Linked DNA regions of Homo sapiens: region 1 is linked to region 2. Evidence: fine-mapped expression QTL. A gene starts in region 2. The other region holds a variant in brackets. All regions are shown on one strand. Distances are between the middles of the regions.

Region 1 (2,728 bases), 680 kb before region 2:
GTGAAGGATATGAACAGACACTTCTCAAAAGAAGACATTTATGAAGCCAAAAGACACATGAAAAAATGCTCATCATCACTGGCCATCAGAGAAATGCAAATCAAAACCACAATGAGATACCATCTCACACCAGTTAGAATAGCAATCATTAAAAAGTCAGGAAACAACAGGTGCTGGAGAGGATGTGGAGAAATAGGAACACTTTTACACTGTTGGTGGGACTGTAAACGAGTTCAACCATTGTGGAAGTCAGTGTGGCGATTCCTCAGGGATCTAGAACTAGAAATACCATTTGACCCAGCCATCCCATTACTGGGTATATATCCAAAGGACTATAAATCATGCTGCTATAAAGACACATGCACACGTATGTTTATTGCGGCACTACTCACAATAGCAAAGACTTGGAACCAACCCAAATGTCCAACAATGATAGACTGGATTAAGAAAATGTTGCACATATACACCATGGAATACTATGCAGCCATAAAAAACGATGAGTTCACGTCCTTTGTAGGGACATGGATGAAATTGGAAATCAACATTCTCAGTAAACTATCTCAAGGACAAAAAACCAAACACCACATGTTCTCACTCATAGGTGGGAATTGAACAGTGAGAACACATGGACACAGGAAGGGGAACATCACACTCTGGGGACTGTTGTGGGGTGGGGGGAGCGGGGAGGGATAGCATTAGGAGATATACCTAATGCTAAATGACGAGTTAATGGGTGCAGCACCCCAGCATGGCACATGTATACATATGTAACTAACCTGCACATTGTGCACATGTACCCTAAAACTTAAAGTATAATAATAATTAAAAAAAAAAAGATAAAGAACCCAGGGCTCAAGGGGAACCCACGATTGCTCAAGATCATCGTCAATAACAGAGCTTGGTGGAAATTCACAAGTACTGACTCCACGGCCAGAGATCGTCTCTCCACTGGAGAGCGACTTCCTCCCTCTGGGTATGTGGCCTGTCAGTTTGACAACCAGGCCCTGCCTCCACTCCTTTAAATGCAGGGTCAGCCTGAGGGAGGGAAGAGGCAGAAAAAGGGCCCAGAGGTGCCAGATCTTCCTACAGTGGCCCTGTGCCAGGCCGTTCACCCAGAGGGAGGGTCTGCCTTCCATGTGCATCCCAACTGTCCTTTCTTTCTGTGTCTCCACCCTGGCTGTGAGGCTCTTCCCAGCAGACAGATCACAATGGACCTGTCCCTGTTATGATCCTTTGTTTGGTGACAGATAAACTGGGCAAAGTCTAAAGGCTGCCCCTGAGACAGTACTCACGATTACAATGATTTTTCCAGCCGCGTCATCCTTTTAAACTTTCATTTGACTTCCTGTTCCTCACGAGCACAGGGAGAAATGAGGGCTCCGTTCCTTGAACCAGAAACACAAAAGGGAGTTCTCCAAGC[T/A]GATCTGTGCCTGTGCATTTGGCAAGGACAAAAGCAGATGCTCTGATGTGACTGTTTCCTGGTTCTTCCTCTTTGCATTGAAACCTGCTCTCTCCGCTCTTCGGCAAATTCGCCCCGAGGAAGTAAGGTGCTGGGCACCTGTCACCACTGTATTGACTTGAAACTCCTGAATGTGCCCACTGCCCTCAGAATCCCTCCGGGGCCTGAAATCACCTCCATATTGATTTCTTGTTGCTGCTGTAACAAATGACCTCCAACTTGGTGGCTGCAACAACACAAATGTAGTACCTTACAGCTCTGGAGGTCAGAAGTCTGACACGGCCTCCCTGGGCGAAAGTAAAGGTGTCTGTAGGGCTGCAGTCCTTTCTGGAGGCTCTGAGGGAGGATTCCACTTCACACTGTGCCCAGCTTTTAGAGGTGTCCATGCCCCTTGGCTTACATCCCCCCATCCATCATCAAAGCCAGCAACGTTGCACCTCCTGCGTTCTTCACAGCCGTGTCTCCGCTGTAAACACAGCTGGGAAAGGTTCTCACTCACAAGGACCCTTGTGATGACACTGCACCCACAGGATATTCCAGGGTCCTCTCCCTGCCTCACAGACAGCTGATTGCAACCTGAACTCCTCTGCTACCTGAATTCCTGTTTGCTGTGAAAAGTAACATAGGCTTAGGTCCTGGGGATTAGGAGGTGAGCCTCTTTGTTTCGGGGTCGGGGCTCCTCGTTCTGCCCACCACACCTCCCATTAAGGCTTGCCATCATGATGGGCCATTACTGAAATGAGGGTGTTACCTGGGCAGTCGGGGTTTAAGGCCATCCCCACCACTGCGCACCAGCCCGCTGATCATGAGCACGGTGCTGGTCATAGTTTTTGAGACAGGGAGGTCCTAGAAGGCTCCAACAGCAGGAAAGGTAGGTTTCTCTAGCACTCATGGGTGGATGCCTTAGAAATAAGAGAGAAACAAACAGCCTCTGGGCCTTGAGAGGTTTAGATTTCCCATTTGAAGCAGAGGTGGTGTGGAGGGGAGGGCCGGGGCCAGCACCTGTTCAGAAAATGCATTCCCCAGAGATGGAAGCAGGTGACAGTGTTCTCACATTAGTTGTGCTGAGAGAAAAAGTCCTTCGTTCAGCTGCGCCCAAGGCTTTATTCACAGACTCCCGTCTCTCCCAGGGGTGCTGGAAAGACCTTGGGGACCTCCTCACCCTTCTTGCTGGAAGATGCCCGTACCGCAGCGCACGAGACCCCAGCTTTTCCGGGGCGGCTGCACTGTCAACTCAATGCCTAGCAAGGATGCGTCCGGCTGGGCATA
Region 2 (3,021 bases):
CACTTGCTCAGAGATACAGAAAGTGACAGAGGTAAGTAAATGCCATTCTTTCTCCACCGTGCAAGGCTGGCCGTGTTACTTACGCCGTTACCAGCTAAGGCCTACCGCAAAATAAAAAAGTCACAAACCTCTCAGTGAGTGACACTTCCTCAAGGAAGTCAGACTGTACTAAAAGGAAATCAGATTGTGCTAATCTTGACGTCTCATCTCAACTAAAAAAAAAAGGTATTGTTTTCCCAGGTACACAATGCCGAAGAAAACCACTGCCAAGTCTTAAAAGCAACCATCTCCCAGTGGGTTCGGTAGACCCCGGTCCTTCCCAAAGCAAGCCATAAGGGAACTCACATAGAGAAGGGGGAAAGAGAAAGGGAGGAGATTGATGGGTAAAAAGACCCACGACAGAACTTCAAAACAAAAAAATGTACACACGTATTTTGTCCCAGAGGCATCTGCTATGATTTATTAAACTGAAGCCAATAGCGCCCATTCTTAATGAATGAGCTGGCGTAGCTCCAATACACACACGGCACTGACACACAGGCTCAAGGCCTGCAGGGGCCTTTTTTCCCTCTGGGAGACACCTGACAGATCGCAGGTTGATCTTAAACAACTGGAAGCAAGATGTCAACGAGCAGATAAGATGGGCTTGCTCTTTTTTTCCATTCCAGGGATCCAATTTTTAGGAACTGTTGTATACGAGACATTAACCCGGGAGGTCAGGAAGCCTGATTTCCAGGCCTAAGATGTGCCAGGCGTCTCCCTCCGGGGGCGGGCTCCGCAAGCCGCCGGGCTGGTTGCTCGTCCGCCCGCCCCTCCCTCGCCCCTTCGGCATCCTCGGGAGGCCGGCGGCGGGAACAGGGCTGCCCCGGGCCACCTGCCATCTCCTCCGCCACCCTTCCAACAGTTGCTTCAGACTCAGGAGAGAGGCCGCCCTGGCCCCAGGAGCATGCTGTCAGCTCATTTCTCGACTCGCCGCCCTGCCCAAAGGCGGCTGCAGGAGGGCGCGCGGCGGCGTGGGTGGCAGCGGCGGGAAGCTGCCCGCCAGGACCCCTGGCCGAGCCGGCTCCCGCGGATCGCGCGCCGCAGCCGGAGGCGTGAGGCCCGGGCGACCCGTACCCCGGCCCGGGACCCCAGCCCCGCTGCCCCGCCGCCCCGGCCGACTCGGACGCCCGCCGCCGCCCACTCACCGCCGCACTCGGCAGAGTACTGGTCCCCCCAGTCCCCGGACTGCGGGCTGCAGCCGCCGCCGCCCGCCGGGGCCTCCTGCTGCTGCCGGTGCTGCAGCTCCTGCTTGAGCAGGGAGAGCGGCGAGTAGTGCTCGGTGGCCAGGGCGCCTGGCCGCAGCCCGGCGGACAGGACCCCCAGCAGCAGCAGCAGCAGGACACGCCGGGCGGCGCCCGCGGCGGCCACAGCGCCGCCCCAGAAGCAGCAGCAGCAGCAGCAGCCGGCAGGTGCCATCTTCCCTCAAGGCGCATGCGCGACAGCCCTTGCCCGGCTCTCAGGCCTCCCCGCCTCTAACCTACGGCGGGCAGGTGGACCGTGGCAAGGGGGCGGGACAAGGGGAGAAGCATTGTGTGCTGGGAATGGTAGTCCCAGCTCGGCCAGCCCGGGGCCGCCTTGCCGGTGCCGGGACTACGAATCCCAATAAGCCCGCGCGGCGCAAGTCTTCCGGTCTGGCGTCTGACGTCTTACCCTCCACAGAATCGGAAGTTCTGGACTGCAGTTGAGTGGAAATGGGCAACGGCGGGCGGAGCGGCCTGCAGCAGGGGAAGGGGAACGTGGATGGGGTGGCAGCGACTCCTACTGCTGCCTCGGCCTCCTGCCAGTACAGGTGCATCGAATGCAACCAGGAGGCCAAAGAGTTGTACCGAGACTATAACCACGGTGTGCTGAAGATAACCATCTGTGTGAGTTGTCAGGTGTGGGGTGCCCTTGAGAAGAAAATGGCGCGGCGGGATTTGGGGACCGCGAGGAGCAGGGTCCTCTGATACAGTCTTTAGTTCGGTAGTTGACATTCCCGCCCGGGATCTTTGCATGAATATCTGTACTGATAGAGAACTCAGCTACCCGACAGCGCTTTTCTCATACTGGGGCATATTTGGGTGATATGACCTAAGCCGGCGAACGGACCGGACCGACAGACAGAGGTAGATGTGGGCATTTTGCAGAGAAATTTAAAGATCAATTAGGTTGACATTTTGGTTCATGCCAAAGCTACTTCCTTCTAGCTCTTCTCCCTTTGACAGAGAGATGGTACCATCCTTACCCTCCACAACCCATGTTGAATTCACCTACGATGCTTTTTAAAGGTTTCATCAATTGTCGTTATTGGATGTCTACGGTGTACAAAGCACTATGCTAGACGTTGGTGGTACAAAACCCAAAAGTGAGGAAGTAAAAATTCTCATTTCAAGGTGTTCGTAGAATACCTTGAACTTTCTGATGATTTTCCATCTCAGAGTTAAGGCCCGAATCCCTGAACTGGCTTATAAGGCCCTATGGAGTCTCCTGCTACTCTTTCCCTTCTTTATTTTACGGCAGAGAGAATAATCTTATGTTTAAAGAGTCTACAAAGTTGGAGGTTCTTTGGGGGTATTAATTAGCAAAGAACCTGTCACAGAATAGACAGTACATTTTTGTCCCATTTCAGATCTTGTGATTTTCTAATCTCTTTAGTAAATTATGGTCTGTAGTAATATACAAGAGAATTGACAAACTGAGTGTATACCTGTATAATCTGCCAACCACATAACGTTCTGATGCATACAACCTCAATTTCCTGTTCCTCTCTCAAGTACTTTCCCTCTTTTGTCAAAATGTCAACCCTTGTTAAATCCAACATATTGCCTGGTCTTGTCCCTGTACCCATGCAGCAGTACGTTGCTGGGGAAAAACAAATTTGTGACGATTAACCTCATATAGGCCTTTCATGATTTCTGGCAATCTTATTTCGGTTTTTTTTTTCTTTCTTTCTTTCTTTTTGAGATAGAGTTTCCCTCTGTCACCCAGGCTGGAGTGCAG

Evidence for each region. PIP is the estimated chance that this variant, and not a neighbour inherited with it, causes the effect.
Region 1: its variant is the best candidate, but not a certain one, in a credible set for the expression of ARV1 in lymphoblastoid cells (GEUVADIS, PIP 0.85).

Annotation. Positions count from the first base shown.
Region 1 is chr1:230,298,318-230,301,045 of GRCh38, forward strand. No RefSeq gene overlaps it. Among named protein-coding and RNA genes, the nearest start is that of PGBD5, 130 kb to the right of the region's middle. The variant T/A (reference allele first, on the strand shown) is at 1,421.
Region 2 is chr1:230,977,373-230,980,393 of GRCh38, forward strand. ARV1 (ARV1 fatty acid homeostasis modulator) reads left to right here and starts at 1,722. Exons shown (of 6, transcript NM_022786.3): 1 at 1,722-1,907. The coding sequence starts at 1,734. It overlaps TTC13 (tetratricopeptide repeat domain 13), which reads right to left and starts at 1,489. Exons shown (of 23, transcript NM_024525.5): 1 at 1,188-1,489. The coding sequence starts at 1,458. RefSeq lists silencers at 804-1,093, 1,114-1,373 and an enhancer at 1,654-1,953.